Linked DNA regions of Homo sapiens: region 2 is linked to region 1. A link means that fine-mapping ties the variant in region 1 to the expression of a gene that starts in the linked region. Tissue or cell type: caudate. Region 1 holds a variant in brackets; the other region holds the start of a gene. All regions are shown on one strand. Distances are from middle to middle.

Region 1 (8,105 bases):
GAAAGGGAAGGCTGAAGTCTCAAGAAAGAGCAAAGTAGTGAGATGACTGAAATGCAACTTCCTACCTCACAAGTTTGTCTTGGGTTAATTCTAAGGCCTAAAAACTACCAAGTATCCACTCAGTAAATAGCTGTTGAATAAATGAATGAACAGATGTCTCAATAAGCAAAATTGGTTTAATATGTCTATTTAGTGTTCAATTTCTCATAAGGATGTTATTTCCATGTTTAGGATAAAAATTCAAAATAGAGTTTTCAGCTCCTTACATTAGCTAAGGTGGGTGTACATTTATCTCCTGCCTGGTACCTTTCCTTTCCGACAAGTTTCTAGTCTGCTGTATTACACTATCTAAAACAGCCACTCTGAGCTGACTAGCACCTTATCACTTTAGACTTTCCTCACCTCCTCTGGCCCGGCACATCTAATATTTTGTTTAATCCTAAGTACTCCAGTTATTGCTCATGTCAAGAACAGACACATTATCACTGGAATTCAGGCTGAGGAAGAAGCTCCACTGAAGCCTTCAGTCTAAACATTAAGAATCAAGGAAGGCCTTTATTTATTTATTTTTCAAATACCAGCCATCCTTCCTCTGCACCCCAAATCATCAAATGTTTTTATCAACTCTCTGTAAAAATTTTGAATTTCTTAAAAAACTGAAACAGAGATGATAAATACAAGTAGCCAGTTTTAAGTACCACTGCTTCTTACTTCAAAGAATTTCCTCTAGATTTGCTATTGTTTGCAAAATATATAGCGGTGGCTCACGCCTGTAATCCCAACACTTTGGGAGGCCAAGGTGGGTGGATCACGAGGTCAGGAGATCGAAGCCATCCTGGCTAACACAGTGAAACCCCGTCTCTACTAAAAATACAAAAAATTAGCTGGGCGTGGTGGCACGTGCCTGTAGTCCCAGCTACTCGGGCGGCTGAGGCAGGAGAATCACTTGAACCTGGGAGGCAAAGGTTGCAGTGAGCCAAGATCGCGCCACTTCACTGCAGCCTGGGCGACAGAGTGAGACTCCATCTCAAAAAATAAATAAATAAAATAAATATGTATAAAACATATATTAAATATTCCAGTTACAAAAATAACAATTACCAAAAACTCCAACAAATAATATCTGTGCCTAATATACAATGTGGCAATGTTCATTATGAAGTTTTAATACAGAGAACTTTTTTTCAGAATTTTTAAGAGAATAAATTTTTCTTTTAAGAATACCTAAGCCTTATGAACATCTGATGTTCAAATACCCAGCAATGGCTGGTCATCTTTTGCTTGCCTAAACTCCATCTGAACAACGGCAAAGCTCTGCTGAACCAACCAACATAAGGAATTGCACATCCCCACATTTCTTTCCATCTTTTTCTTTTCTGTCAGACTTTCACTCTTTTGCTGATAGTAAGTACCCTTAATCTATTAAAAGAAATACAAAAATCACTTCTGACTTGCCTATTCTCTTTCATTATATGCATATTTACATCACCACTGTATGACAAATTATTTCACCTCATAGACCCTGTTTTCTGATCTGTAAAAGTGGTTAATGGTACTTACCTAAAAGGTTGTAAAATGTTTTTAAATAAAGTATGTAAAGCTTTCAGTGCAATGCCTTGTATTTGGCAAGTGCATTGTAAATGGGAGTATTATCTACATCAACATCTTCATCAAGATTACAATACTGCTCTGACTCATTCCTGATTAAGGTCATGCATTACTTAACAAGGATATAGTCTGAAAAATTCATCATGAGGTGATTCCATCGTTGTGCAAACATCATACAGTGCACTTACACAAACATAGATGGTATAGTCTACAACACATCTAGGCTATATATGGCATTGTCTATTGTTCCTAGGCTGCAAACCTGGCAGCCTATTATTGTACTGAATACTGTAAGCAGTTGTAACATAATGGTCAATATTTGTGTACCTAAATGTAGAAAAGGTACAGTAAAAGTAAACTATAGAAGATATAAAGTGGTACACTTAGGCCAGGCACAGTGGCTCATGCCTGTAATCCCAGCAATTTGGGAGGCAGAGGCAGGAGGATCTCTTGAGCCCAGGAGTTCAAGACCAGCCTGGGCAACATGATGAAACCCTGTCTGTACCAAAAAAAAAAAAATACAAAAATTAGCTGGGTGTGGTGGTGTGTGCCTGTGGTCCCAGCTACTTAGGAGGCTGAGGTGCAAGGATTGCTTGAGCCCAGGAGGTGGAGACTACAGTGAGGTTTTTTCTTTTTCATTTTCTTTCTTTTTTTTTTTTTTTTTTAAGACAGAGTCTCACTCTGTTGTCCAGGCTGGAGTGCAGTGGCATGATTTTGGCTCACTGCAACCTCCGCCTCCCAAGTTCAAGCAGTTCTCATGCCTCAGCCTCTCGAGCAGCTTAGGACACAGGAGTGTGCCACCATGCCTGGCTAATTTTTGCATTTTTAATAGAGACAGAGTTTCACCATGTGGGCCAGACTGGTCTCAAACTCCTAGCCTCAAGTGATCTGCCTGCCTCAGCCTCCCTAATTGCTGGGATTACAGGTATGAGCCACTGCACACAGCCTATAAGCTTTCTTCTATTTAAAAATTTTTATTTATTTATTTTTTACTTTCAAACTTTTTTGTTTAAAAATGAAGACATAGCCAGGTGCTATGGTGCAAGCCTATAATCCCAGCTACTCAGAAGGCTGAGGTGGGAGGATTGTCCAAGGCCAGGAGTTCGAGGCTGCAGTGCAATATGATTGCACCTGTGAACAGCCACTGCACTCCAGCGTGGGCCAACATAGTGAGGCCTAGTCTCAAAAAAAAACAAAAAACAAAAAGACATAAACACACATTACACATGAGACTAGGCCTACACAGGGCCAGGGTCTTCAATATCACTGTCTTTCACCTCCTTATCTTCTCCCATTGGAAGGTCTTCAGGAGCAGTAACATGCATGGAGCTGCCATCTCCTATGGTAACTATGCCTTATCTGGAATACCTCCTGAAGGACTGTTTTGCAGTTAACTTTTTTTTAAGTATAAAAAAGACACTCTAAAATAATAAGACAAGTATAATATAGCAAGTACATAAACCAATAACGCAGTCGTCTGTTATCATTATCAAGTACCATGTACTGTACATATTGTATGTACTATACTTTTATAGGACTGGCAGCACAGTAGGTTCGTTTACACCAGCATCATCACAAATATGTAAGTAATGTGTTGTACCATGATCAGCTCTGACATATCTGGGCAATAAAAATTTTTCAGCTCCACTGCAATCTTAAGGAACTACCACTGTATATGAAGTTTGTCATTGACCAAAAGGTCATTATATGGTGTGTGACTGTAATATAAAAATAGTTATTGTGATAAAATTATTTTAAGGGAGGGAGACAATGGATTTGGAAGTAAAATTAGTCATTTTGTTAGTTTTTTATTGCTGCTGTAACAGATTATGACAAACTTAAACATTAAAATAACACAGATTGGCCAGGAACTGTGACTCTCACACTTCTAAGCCCAGCACTTTGGGAGGCTGAGGCAGGAGGATTGCTTGAGCCCAGGAGTTGGAGACCAGGGTGGGCAATGTAGTGAGACCCCATCTCTACAAAAAATAAAAAAATTAGCCAGGTGTGGTGGCACATGTCTGTAGCTCCACCTACTCAGGAGGTTGAGGCAGGAGGATCATTTGAGCCTGGGAGGTTGAGGCTGTAGTGAGCCCAGACCATGCCACTGCACTCTAGCCTGAGCAACAGAGCAAGACCTGTACCTAACAAAATAAAAATAAAAAAAACAACACAGATGTATTATTGTATAGATCTGGAGATCAGAAGTTTCAAATGGGTTGGCAAGGCTCCTTTCCTTCTGGAGGCTCTAGGAGGA[G/A]AATCCATTTCCCTGTCTGTCTCAGCTTCTAGAGGCTGCCCACATTCCTTGGATCTAGCCCCCACATCACTCTGACCTCTACTTCATCACATCACCTTCTCTCCCTTTGTCTCACATTTCCTTTTTTTATAAAGATCCTTGTGATTACATTGGGGACATCAGATAACCCAGGATAATCTCCCAATTTCAAGATCCTTAATCACATTTGCAAATTCCCTTTTGCCATATAACGTAACAGTGGTAGGTTCTGAGGATTTGCATATGGAAATAATGGAGGCCATTATTTAGTTTAACACAGTCATTAAAAAAAAAGAAATTGGGGCATTTAACCTTCTAGAAACTGAACTGAAATTTCTCCATAATCAATAGAAAACTTTCTATTTTCTCAACACTAGTGAAACCTGCTTTTCTTTGGTGACACCAATTGATAAAACTATTTCTGATTCAATATGTTGCTTTCCCCTTTGGTTATCAGTAGTTTAATTGAATCATTGACTACAGTTTTATGGCAAATGTGAATTCTGGGTTGAACGAACTAAATTGAGATGCAAATAACAATTTGTAACATTGATCCTGTGGGTGAATTATTTCATAGTCCCAACAAATGTACTTATGTTTACCAACTTGCAATACAAGGTCTTTTTAAAAGTAATTAATTTATTTTTATTTTTATTTTTTTAAAGACAGGGTCTCATTCTGTCTTGCAGGCTGTTGTACAGTGGCCTGATTATAGCTCACTGTAGCCTCGAAATTCTGGGCTGAAATGATCCTCCTGCCTCAGCCTCCAAAGTAGCTGAGACTAGAGGTATGTGTCACCACACCCATCTAAATTTTATATATTTTTTCTAGAGACAAGGGTATGTAGCCCAGGTATTTGACCCTCCAAATCTGATGTTGAAATTGGATACCCAGTGTTGGAGGTGGGGCCTAATGGAAGGTATTTGGGTCATGGGGCAGATCCCTCATGAATAGATTAATGTTCTCCCTGGGTTGCAGGTGAGTGAGTTTTTGGTCTCTTAGTTCCTGTGAGAGCTAGGTTTTATAGGATTTTTTTTTTTTTTTTAGGCTGGTCTTGAACTCTTGGGCTGAAGAGATTCTCCCACCTCAGCCTCCCAAGGTGTTGAGATTACAAGCATGAGCCACCTCACCTGGCCAAGAGCTAGTTGTTAAAAGAGCCTAGCAGTACCCACCTCTTTCTTGTTTCCTCTCTCACCATGTGATCTCCACACACATTGGCTTGCCTTCCCTTTCTGACATGAGCGGAAGCAGCCTGAGGCCCTCACCAGATGTGGATGCCAGTGCCATGCTTCTTGTACAATCTGCAGAATCATAAGCTAAATACACCTCTTTTCTTTATAAATTACCCAGCCTTGGGTATTCCTTTATAGCAACACAAACGGAGAAAGACATATGCAATTTGCCATTTTAATCATTTTTAACTGTACAATTTGGTGGTATTAATTATATTTACAATGTTGTGCAACCGTTACCACCATCTATTACCAAAGCCCTTTCATCACCCCAAATAGAAACTGTGCTTATTCAGCAAAAACTCCCATTTTCCTCTCCTTCCAGCCCCTGGTAACCTCTGGTAACCTCTAATCTACTTCCTGTCTCTATGAATTTGCCTATTGTAAATATTTCACATAATGGTATCATACACTATCCTTTTGTGTCTAGCTTATTTCACTTAGCATAATGTTTTCAAGGTTCATCCATCTTATAGCATGTATCAGTATTCCATTCTTCTTTTCTATGGCTGAATAATAATTGTATGTATATACTGCATCTTGTTTATCCATTTATCTTTTTGTTTGTTTGTTTTTTAAAGACAGGGTTTTACCATGTTGGCCAAGCTAGTCTCGAACTCCTGAACTCAGGTGATCCGCCCACCTTGGCCTCACAAAGTACTGGGATTACAGGCGTGAGCCATCGTGCCTGGCCTATCCGTTTATCTTTTGATAGACATTTTGGTTGTTTCTACCTTTTGTCTATTGTGAATAATGCTGCTATGAACATTAGTGTACAAGTCACTGATTAAGTTGTTGTTTTCAATTCTTTGGGGTATTGTATTAGGCCATTCTTGCATTGATATAAAGAAATACCTGAGACTGGGTAAGTGCCAAAGAAAAAAGGGTTTAGTTGGCTCACATTTCTGCAGTCTGTACAGGAAGCATAGCAGCATCTGCTTCCAGGGAGGCTTCAGGAAGCTTCCAATCATGATGGAAGGCAAAGTGGGTGCAGGCATGTCACATGGCAAAAGCCAGAGCAAGAGAGGAAGTGGGGAGGTGCTGCACACTTTTAAACAATCAAATCTTGTGAGAACTCACAATCTTGATGACAGCTAGAGATGGTGAAGCCACTCATGAGAAACCACTCCCATGATCCAATCACCTCCCACCAGGCCCCAACTCTAACACCGGAGATTAATTACATTTCAACATGAGATTTGCATAGGAACAAACAGTCAAACTATATCCGGTATATACTTAAGAGTAGAATTACTGGGTGATAATTCTGTTTTACGTTTTGAGGAATTGCCAAACTATCTTCCTCAGCAGTTAAACCATTTACATTCCCACCAGAGGTATACTAGGTTTCCAATTTCTCCACATGTTCAACAACACTAGTTATTTTTTCTTCTAATTATAGCCATTCTAGTAGGTACAAAGTGGTATCTCATTGTGGTTTTAGCATCTTTTGAGTTGCTTATTGACCATTTACATGTCTTTTTTTTAGAGAAGTGTCTAAGTCTTTTGTCCATTAAAAATTTGAGTTATTTATCTTTTATTTGTTGAGTTGTAGGATTCTTTATGCATTCAATTCTTTTGGGTATTGTATTAGGCCATTCTTGCATTGCCATAAAGAAATGCCTGAGTATATTAGTTTTTTGTCAGATGTATGATTTGCAAACATTTTCTCCAATTTTTTGTGTTATCTTTTCACTCTCTTTATAGTGTCACTTGATACACAATTTTGATGAAGTCCAATTTATCAGTTGTTTCATCACTTGTACTTTTGATGTTATATTTAAGAAACCATTGTCAAACCCAAGGTCATGAAGATTTTTCAGTATGTTTTCCTCTAAGAGTTTTATAGCATTTAATATTTAAGTGTTTTATAGCATTAAATTTTGGTCTTTGATCCATTTTGAGTTAATGTTTGTACATTGTGTAAAAGTATAGGTCCAACTTCATTCTTTTGCTTGTGGATATCTAGTTTCCCCAACACCATTTGTTGAAGAGATTGTCCTTTTCCCCATTGAGTGATCCTGGAACCCTTGCTGAAAATTAATTACCCATAGATGTGAGTGTTAGTTCTGGCCTCTCGATTCTATTCCATTGGTCTATATTGTCTATCTCTGTGCCAAGTCCATGCTATTTCAATTATTATAGCTATGTAGTACATTTTAATATCAGAAAATGTGAGTCCTACAACTTTGTTCCTCTTCAGATTATTTTGGCTATTTTGGGTTCCTTGAAATTTTATATGAATTTTAGAATAGGTTTTTCCGTTTCTGCCAAAAGCGCTGTTGGGATCTTATTAGCGTGATTACATTGACTCTACATATCATTTTGAGTAGCGTTGTCGTTTTAACAATATTAAGTCTTCCAACTTATGAACACAGGATCTCTTTCCATTTATTTAAGTCTGCTTTAATTTCTTTCCAGAATGCTTTGTAGTTTTCAGTGTACAAGTCTTCTGCCTTCCTGGTTAAATTGATTTCTAAATATTTTATTCTTTTGGGTACTACTGTAAATAAAAAATTCTTAATTTCCTTTTCAGATTTTTTACTGCTAGTGTGTAGAAACACGACTGATTTTTGTGTGTTGATTTTGTATTCTGAAGCCTTGCTAAATTTGTTTATTAGCTTTAAGAGGCTATTTTTGGTATTCTTTAGGGCTTTCTACACTTATATCACTTGCAAATAGAGATAGTTTTACTTCTTCCTTTCTAATTTGGATTTATTTTATTTCTTTTTCTTGCCTGATGGGTCTGGCTAGAACTGCCAATACTGTGTTGAATAGAAGTGGCAAACACAGGCATCCATGGCTTCTGATTTTAGTGGAAAAGCTTGAAATTTTTCCCCATTGAGAATGATGTTAGTCGTGAGTTCTTAATACATGGTCTTTATCATGTTGAGACAGTTCCTTTCTATTCCTGGTTTGTTGGACAGTTCTATCATAAAGGAGGAATGGATTTTCTCAAATGTTCTTCTATATCAATTGAGATGATCATG
Region 2 (8,105 bases), 230 kb before region 1:
AAATTTCCCAAATAGGACAAACCCAAAGAGGTCTATACTGAACACATTATAATTAGTTTGTCCAAAGTCAAATACAAAGAAAAAAAATTGAAAGCAGCAGGAGAAAACTGACTTGTCACATAAAAGAGAACCTCCAAAAGACTATCACGAGATTTCTCAGTGGAAACCCTGCAGACCAGGAGAGAATGAAATGATATATTCAAAGTACTGAAAGAAAAAAAAAAAAAACCCACCTGTCAATCAGGAATTCTGTACCCAGCAATGTGTCTTTTATTAGTGAAGGAGAGATAAAAACTATCCCAGACAAACATATACTGAGGGAGTTTGTCACCACTAGGTCCACCTTGCAAGAAGTGCTAAAGGAAGTTCTCGAGGTTGAAATAAAAAGAGGTTAAACAGAAACACAAATGCACACAAAAGTATAAGTTTCACTGGTAAAAGTAATTATAAAGACAAGTAGAGTTTTCCTTTCCCCAAGATGGCTGTCTAGAGACATTGGACACCAGTTCTCCTCAGAACAAAGAACCAAAATTGCAGTTGAATAATCATGGTCTGAGTGGAATACTGAGGAATGAGTGACATGACCTATTGGGGAACCCACAGGAAAAAGCTGTGGTGCTGAAAAAGAAGACAGCAAGAGTTTTGCAGAGATTGACTTCCAAGGAACATAGAGTCCCATGGAGAGGGTAGGAGGGGAAGTTGCTCCCCTCACTCCTGTGGCAGACTATGGACTGCTGAACTTGTTGGAGAAACCCTCTGCACCTGTGAGCCCAGGCATTGCTGTCAGTGGCAATTTGGGAACTTCTTTAGGGCAGAGCATTGGGTGGCCAGCTCATGCAGGCACACTCGCTCTCCCCCAAAACCTGAGTTGAAGTGGCAGGTGTCATACTGGTTATGCACCCATTGTGGGTCTGTTCTTCCCAAGGAATCCCAGCCCTTGTGTTTCTGCATCACTAGATCCTCCATGAACATTCCCCAGAACCCACTTAGACTGCAGCAACCACAGGGGACGGGTGGGACCCTGGGGAGCTATGGAATTCCTAGAAGTCTAGCTCTTAGGAGAAGGGAGAGTGTCTGTGCCAACGTACTCCTTTGGATAAAAGAAACCAGTTCATTTGCTCTCCTCTGCCTAAGAGCTCCCCACGTGTGAGAAGAGGCTGGCTGTGCCCCTCCCAGCAGAGACACAGGCATGGTTCTGGGGTCTGAAGGGGAGGAGTGTGGTTCTGCACCAGTAGGCAGGTGACACTGGTGCCTGGGAATAAACATGGAAAGGGAGTCTTCTCCTACCCCCTCACTCAATGCTCCAGATAGACCGTTGGCTGTCCCTACTGGGAGCTGGCACAAGTGCACCTGGGGATGGCTTTTGAGGGCTCCTGGGGGCAGCTGCACTCCCATTGATGGGGTGCCTGCTGGCCAAGCCTTGCACGAAGGGCAGAGTTTATCCTCCTCCCCATATGGAGCAGCAGCATTCCCATAGCAGAATGCAGATGAATATCAGAGCTGCTGAGGGAAGAGGTTCTATCCCAAGGCCATTTTGGTGGTAGCCACAGGACGGGTGTTTTCTGCAGACCTCCATCACACTGCAGCCTGGAGATGAAGGACAATGTCTATCTGAACTGAAGGTCACAAGCTCCGGGACAAGGGTGTTTTAGGAAAGTGGATTGCCTTCCTGCCTTCCCAGGATGTGGAGCTGGTATACTCCTTCCCACTCTGGTGGAGACATCAGTGCCTTTCACCATGAGCTCCCATTTCCACTCCCATCAAGGCAGTTGCTTCTGCTCATAATTGGGGTTTCCCAGGGTGAGCTTGGTCGTTTAGTGCCCCTCAGTTTTGTGTCCCCCTCCAAAGCTTTGTGTTCCCTTCAGGGAATCAGGCCATCCACAGACCAGCCAACTGCCTGTGACAACAGAGATCCCCTCCCAGAAAACAAAGACCAAGTACCCATCAGCTTATGCCACAGCCAGCTTTTATTGGGATGCAGATTGAATTGCACAACCAAATAAAAAACAGGCTGACAGAGGGTATAGTGCTGGGGAATGAGATAAACTTTCAGAGACTTCCACATTCCCAGCCCCTCAGAAGGTAGTATTCCTGCTCATATGCCCAATACATTGCTACTACAATCAGCATAATAAAGCCACCACACAAAAGCTATCTATACAGCATAATAAAGCCACCACACAAAAGCTATCTATGACCAAGGAACTCATACAGAGCTGTGACCCACGGAAGGCACCCAAAATTGAAGCCAAATGATCACACACAACATACAGTCACACCTTCAAAGGGGGAAAAAATCCCATTCAAATGAGAGTAAGTTCAAAAGTAAGAAGTAACGGGTTCTCTAGATGAGAAGAAATCAGCATAAGCACTCTGGAAGTACGAAAAACCAGTATTTTGACATGCCCAAAGGATCACACCAGCTCCCTAGCAATGGATCCTAACCAATATAAAAATTTTGAAATAACAAATAAAGAATTTAAGATATGAGTTGTAAGGAAGCTCAATGAGATACAAGAGAAAGTTGAAAACTAACATAAGGAAATCAGAAAAATAATTCAGGATATTAATGAAAAATTTACAAAAGAGATAGAGATTAAAAAACAAAAACCAAATAGAACTTCTAGAAATAAAAATTTATTGAAGGAACTATAAAATATAGTTGAAACTTTTAGCAAAAGACTAGACCAAGCAGAAGAAATAATTTCAGAGCCTGAAGGCCAGTCATTTGAATTAACCTAGTCAGACAGAAATACAGAAAAAATAAATTTTTAAAAATGAACAAAGACTTTGAAAAATATAGAATTACATAAAGTTACCAAATATACAATATATAGACATTCCTGAGGGAGAAGAAAAAAAATTAAAAGCTTGGAAAACCTATTTGAGGGAATAATTCAGGAAAACTTCCCTGGTCTTGCTAGAGAATTAGACATCCAGATAGGAGATGCTCAGAGAACACCTGGAAGATGCTTTACAAGAGAAACCTCATAAAGGCATATCGTCATCAGACTATCCAAAGTCAATGTGAAGGAAAACATCCTAAAAGCAGCAAGAGAGAAATGTCTAATCTATACAGGAAAACCCAACAGACTAACAATGGACTTCTTAGCAGAAACCTTACAAGCCAGAAGAGATTGGGGTCTTATGTTTAATCTACTTAAACAAAAATCCTGCCAGCCAAGAATTTTGTATCCTGCTAAACTAAGCTGCATAAATGAAGGAGAAATAAAGTTTTTCCCATACAACAAATGCAAAGGGAATTTGTCACCACAAGACCAGCACTACAAGAAATGCTTAAAGTTCTAAACATGGAAATGAATGGACAATACTCCTCATCATAAAAGCACATTAAAGTGAAAAACTCACAGATTATATAAAGCAATTACATAATTGAGACTAAAAAGCAACTGGGTAACAATTATCATGACAGGAACAAAACATCACATATCAATATTAACCTTGATAATAAATGGAGTAAATGTTCCACTTAAAAGATACAGATTGGTGCTGGGTATGATGGCTTACACTTGTAATCTCAGAACTTCGGTAGGCTGAGGCAGGAGAATTGCTTGAGACCAGGAGTTTGAGACCAGCGTGGGCAACAGAGTGAGACCCCATCTCTGTAAAAAATTAAAAAGAGAAATTAGCCAGGTGTGATCATGCTCACCTGTAAAGAGGCTGAGGCAGGACAATCACTTGAGCCCAGGAGTTTGAGGCTGCAGTGAGCTATAAATGCATTATGGCACTCTAGCCTGGGTGACAGAGTGAGACTGTCTCAAAAAAAAAAAAAATACATACAGACTAAAAGATTGGATAAAAGTAGCATCAGCTCAGGGGTCCTAACTAGTTACAAGAACAGTGCACAAGACAAACACCAGCTAAGATGGCAGGGAGAACAAGCCTGAACAAGGCAAGGCAGAGGTCTGCTAAGGGAAATCCATCCCACAAAAGACAAGCAAGGCAGGGGCTCTCTGAGGCCTAGAGCAGCATGCAAAAGAGCAACTCTTTCCAGGTGGCAGCTCCCTAGCTGCTGCCCCCACATGCTGCTGCCTCTGCAGCCACTCTACCTGCCCCACCCCTGCCCAGGTATTCCAAGCAGCTCTCAGCTCTTTCCCAATATCTGGGCAGTGCTGTTGAGACAAAGGAAGAGGAGAAGTGGACACAGCAGGTCTTGGCTCTTAAGATCTGCAGTTGTGAGTTCCTTTTGCAATCGCTGTAGGTCATTGTGCAACCTGCTGGTCTCTGGACTCCTGATTTCTAGACATCTATAAAATACAGACACTGATGATGCCACTTAATTCACAGAGCTGCAGTGAGAAAGGTGCAGATGAGTTCAAGGCCTGATAGTGTTCTGCAAACTATAGTGATGGATGTGCATAGTATTGTGAATATCAGTGGCAGGTTTCCAGAACGCAGGTGGGGATAAGAGTGAGTGAGTCAATAAAGAAGAAAATTGCCCCACTTCTTGAAGGGAGTTTTTGGGGCTGGGCAGCTCAGGGTACAGGGCAGGCATAAATAGTGAGTGCCTGCCAAGCAAAGGCTAGTTTGCTTGGAGCTCCTGGGGCCTAACAAAAAGAAACCTGTAAGTGTCTCTGTTCTTGCCTTCTTTTTATTTTCTCCACATCCTATAAATATCCCTCTGCCGACCTGGGCAATTCAACCTATTGGTGTGGAGGGTCTGTGTAGCTGTTCTGGTCTAGGAGGCATGGGCGCAGGAGGTGGGGAGCACAGGAGGTCTTATGGTGCTCTTCTGCCCCTTATTCAGTGGCCTCAGCCCAGGGGAGGATTTGCTTTCTGAGCTGGGGGTGCACAGGGTGGAAGAGTGGGTGTGACACTATCTAGACCTGGGATGCCACAGTGTGGAAGCTTCAGGTGGAAAAATGCAATGCTAATTTATCTCTAGGCTCTTTTCTGCACTGATTTCTTCAGAAAGGACAGTGGAAGAGAGACAAACCCAGGCACTCACAGGCTGGGGTTCTAAACCCATCCTGGTGCCAACAGCCTGTGGAAAAGCAGGGCAAGCCTGTTTTTCTCATAGCTTCAGGTCTTTACTTTAAAAAATATACTTACTGGAGTAGGTCTCTGATTTTCCAATCCATGTTCAGAGGAGATGGCCTTTTCAATGAAATTGTACTCTGAAAGCTTAGCATAAACTGGGCACTGCAGGGGTTGAGGGGGACCACAACTCTGCCCACTCCATCTGCTGCCCCAGCTAAGATGCCTCATCTGAATCCTGGGCCTGAAAACCCGGGTCTGCCCTCTCCAAGTGTCCTTCAAGCCACAGTGGCTGCTGGTGCCTTCTGTGCCATCTTGAGCCTGTAGACAGAATGCCTATTGCCTTTCATTCTTCCCCAGAATCAGACACAGGGCCTGAGGGGTGAGGGAGCTGCGGGGCACAGAACAATGCCCTTGCTCTGGCCTGGGTCTGGCCCTTGCTGCTCATGATTGAGCCTCTGCCAGAACAGGTGTAACAAGGTAGCCGCTGCTGGCAGTGAGCTCACCCAGGTGTTTCTAGAGACTACCAGGATACCCAAGGAAGTGGTGATTTCAAAATTGAAAGAGGCTAGTGAGAAATAGGGGTCATCCACAGCCCAGAATCACCAGCAGTCAAAGAAGAAGGCACTCCTCTGGGCAGGAAGCCCCCCACTTGCCACCACCCCAGTTGGCCTGGTGACCCCTTTCTTTGCACAAGTCCCTCTGGCTTTGTTCCTAGCCTCTGCGAATCTGATCAGCTCTTTTCACTCTCATAACTTTACGGTTTCTCATTGAGAGAAAAGATACCCAAAACAGTTAATGTCCCAGGTCCTGCTCTTATCCTGGTCTCAGTTCCTGACCATCTTAGATAGTAAATGGGTGCCCTGTTGGGTAGTTGCTCTTGCTTACCCACAACACTAGCTTTCTGCCTGACTGAGCCTACCTGGCATGTCCTCTTTCCATATAAGACTTCTTTTTTTTTCTGAGATGGAGTCTCACTCTCTTGCCCAGGCTGGAGTGCAGTGGCACGATCTCGGCTCACTGCACCCTCCACCTCCCGGGTTCAAGAGATTCTCCTGCCTCAGCCTCCCGAGTAGCTGGGATTACAGCACGCACCACCACATCTGGCTAATTTTTTATACTTTTAGTAGAGATGGGGTTTTGCCATGTTGGCCAGGCTGGTCTCGAACTCCTGACTTCAAGTGATCTGCCCGCCTCGGCCTCCCAAAGTGCTGGGGTTACAGGCATGAGCGACCGTGCCCAGACTCCACATACTTCTTTTCCAAACCCTCTCAGGTCTTAGAAGAACTCTAGGTGTCTCAGGATTTCTCCTACTGCTAGTTTAGTGTCTCTGAAAACTTTCACCTGGGTTCCCTCTGGGACTTTTCTCTAGAGACAGCACCTGCTCGAGGAATGGCAAATTGCCAGGCAAATGTGCACCACACTCCCAGCCTGCGCTCAGGAAGGACATTACTAAGCACTCAGGACTCTGGCTGCATTTTCAGACCAGCACTATCAGCACCAGTGCTAGTCCATGCAAGGCAGCAAGAGAGAAGAAACAGGCTTGCCTTGTCTGAGCTAAGCCAGTTGCCTCAGTGGTACAGACAGGGAGATGGTCTAGGGAGTGGGCGGGGGGTGTCCTGCCCAGAGGCACTCAATGAACCCTTCTTGATGTGACAGATGGCCCCAGTGAGGAATGCTACATCCTAGCCACTGTGCCAAACTTAGTGCCCAAGGGAAGGCACAAGAAGGGAAGACATGAGCACCTGGGAATGGGGGATGCTGCTGTCAACCTATGTCAGAGTTCCAGCTGGGTAACTCATGCTCTCCATCCAGACCTTGTGCCCTCCTTGTCCTTAAACTGCTTTTGGATTCCTGCTGCTCTAGGCCCCATAGCAGAGGACAGAAGGAGGGAATGGGGGCTTCTTGTCACCTCTAGAAGCTGAGCCAAGCCCTAAACCATGTCCATGAAGCATAAGCATGTCTTTTCTCTTTCTGTTCACCTCTCCAGGCCATGCTGCTCTTCCTCCTCTCTGCACTGGTCCTGCTCACACAGCCCCTGGGCTACCTGGAAGCAGAAATGAAGACCTACTCCCACAGAACAATGCCCAGTGCTTGCACCCTGGTCATGTGTAGCTCAGTGGAGAGTGGCCTGCCTGGTCGCGATGGACGGGATGGGAGAGAGGGCCCTCGGGGCGAGAAGGGGGACCCAGGTAGGGTGGGGCCCTGGGCTTATCCTGCTGGGGAGGAATGGTCATTGGAACTGTAACTAGCCCAGCAACTCTGGGTACTTTGTTATGGAAGTCTGGAGACGTGTTTCTTCCTCCCAAGAAGGCGAGTTCCACACTGCTCCACCAGCTGGCAAACAAGTGGCTGTGCTGAGCCCCCATGTGCCTCCTCCAGCACCCAACTGCCCTAGCTCCTCCTCTAGGATCCCCGGATCCTTCCTATCCCAAGAGCAAGCAAACAGTGGTAAATTACTGATATCTGGGGCCTTCTAGAGCCCTGTGCCAGCAGTTAGCAGTTGTTCATTCCAATTAAATGATGCCTGTGCAGGGCATTAAATATTTTAAATATTTAATTAAACACTACTGCATGAAGGGTGGGAAAAAAATGGGGCTCCATGGCTCCATTCTCAAGCCTAATCAAGAGGATTTGCTCTAATACATTACACGGGGAGAAAAGGCACTCACATTTCTTTGTCCACCCTTGTGCTTGGGCATTCACTGGAGTAGTTCATTTAATCCTCCCAAGAGTCTTACAGGGGACATATTAATCTCCTTCGACAGGTAAGAAAATGATGATGCAGAGAGGCTAAGTAGCAACCATTCTGGAGGTGGAAAGGACGAAGGCTCTGCATCAGACTGGCCTGGGCTCCATCTCCACACTGGGAGAGCCCCTCAGTGTCACTGAGTCTGTTTTTTTTATCTGGTAATGGGAATGATATCTACCACCCAGTGATGAATCATTGAGCCAAAGGCTTTATTTTTTCTTGAGTCTTTGGGATAAAGTTGCATTTTCTGCTGTACCTAATAGGTGAATTATCTTGAGCTTAGCAGAGGTACTGATGAGTAAGGGAATTGTCCCTGGAAATACTGCTCCCCGCTTGTAGGGAAAGATCTAGGTCT

The links. PIP is the estimated chance that this variant, and not a neighbour inherited with it, causes the effect.
Region 2: it holds the start of SFTPD, and the variant in region 1 is fine-mapped to the expression of SFTPD in caudate (GTEx, PIP above 0.99).

The regions. Positions count from the first base shown.
Region 1 is chr10:79,720,480-79,728,584 of GRCh38, reverse strand. All of the region lies in intron 6 of NUTM2B-AS1 (NUTM2B antisense RNA 1), which reads left to right. Among named protein-coding and RNA genes, the nearest start is that of NUTM2B, 21 kb to the right of the region's middle. The variant G/A (reference allele first, on the strand shown) is at 3,866.
Region 2 is chr10:79,945,546-79,953,650 of GRCh38, reverse strand. SFTPD (surfactant protein D) reads left to right here and starts at 4,546. Exons shown (of 8, transcript NM_003019.5): 1 at 4,546-4,585; 2 at 6,989-7,190. The coding sequence starts at 6,992.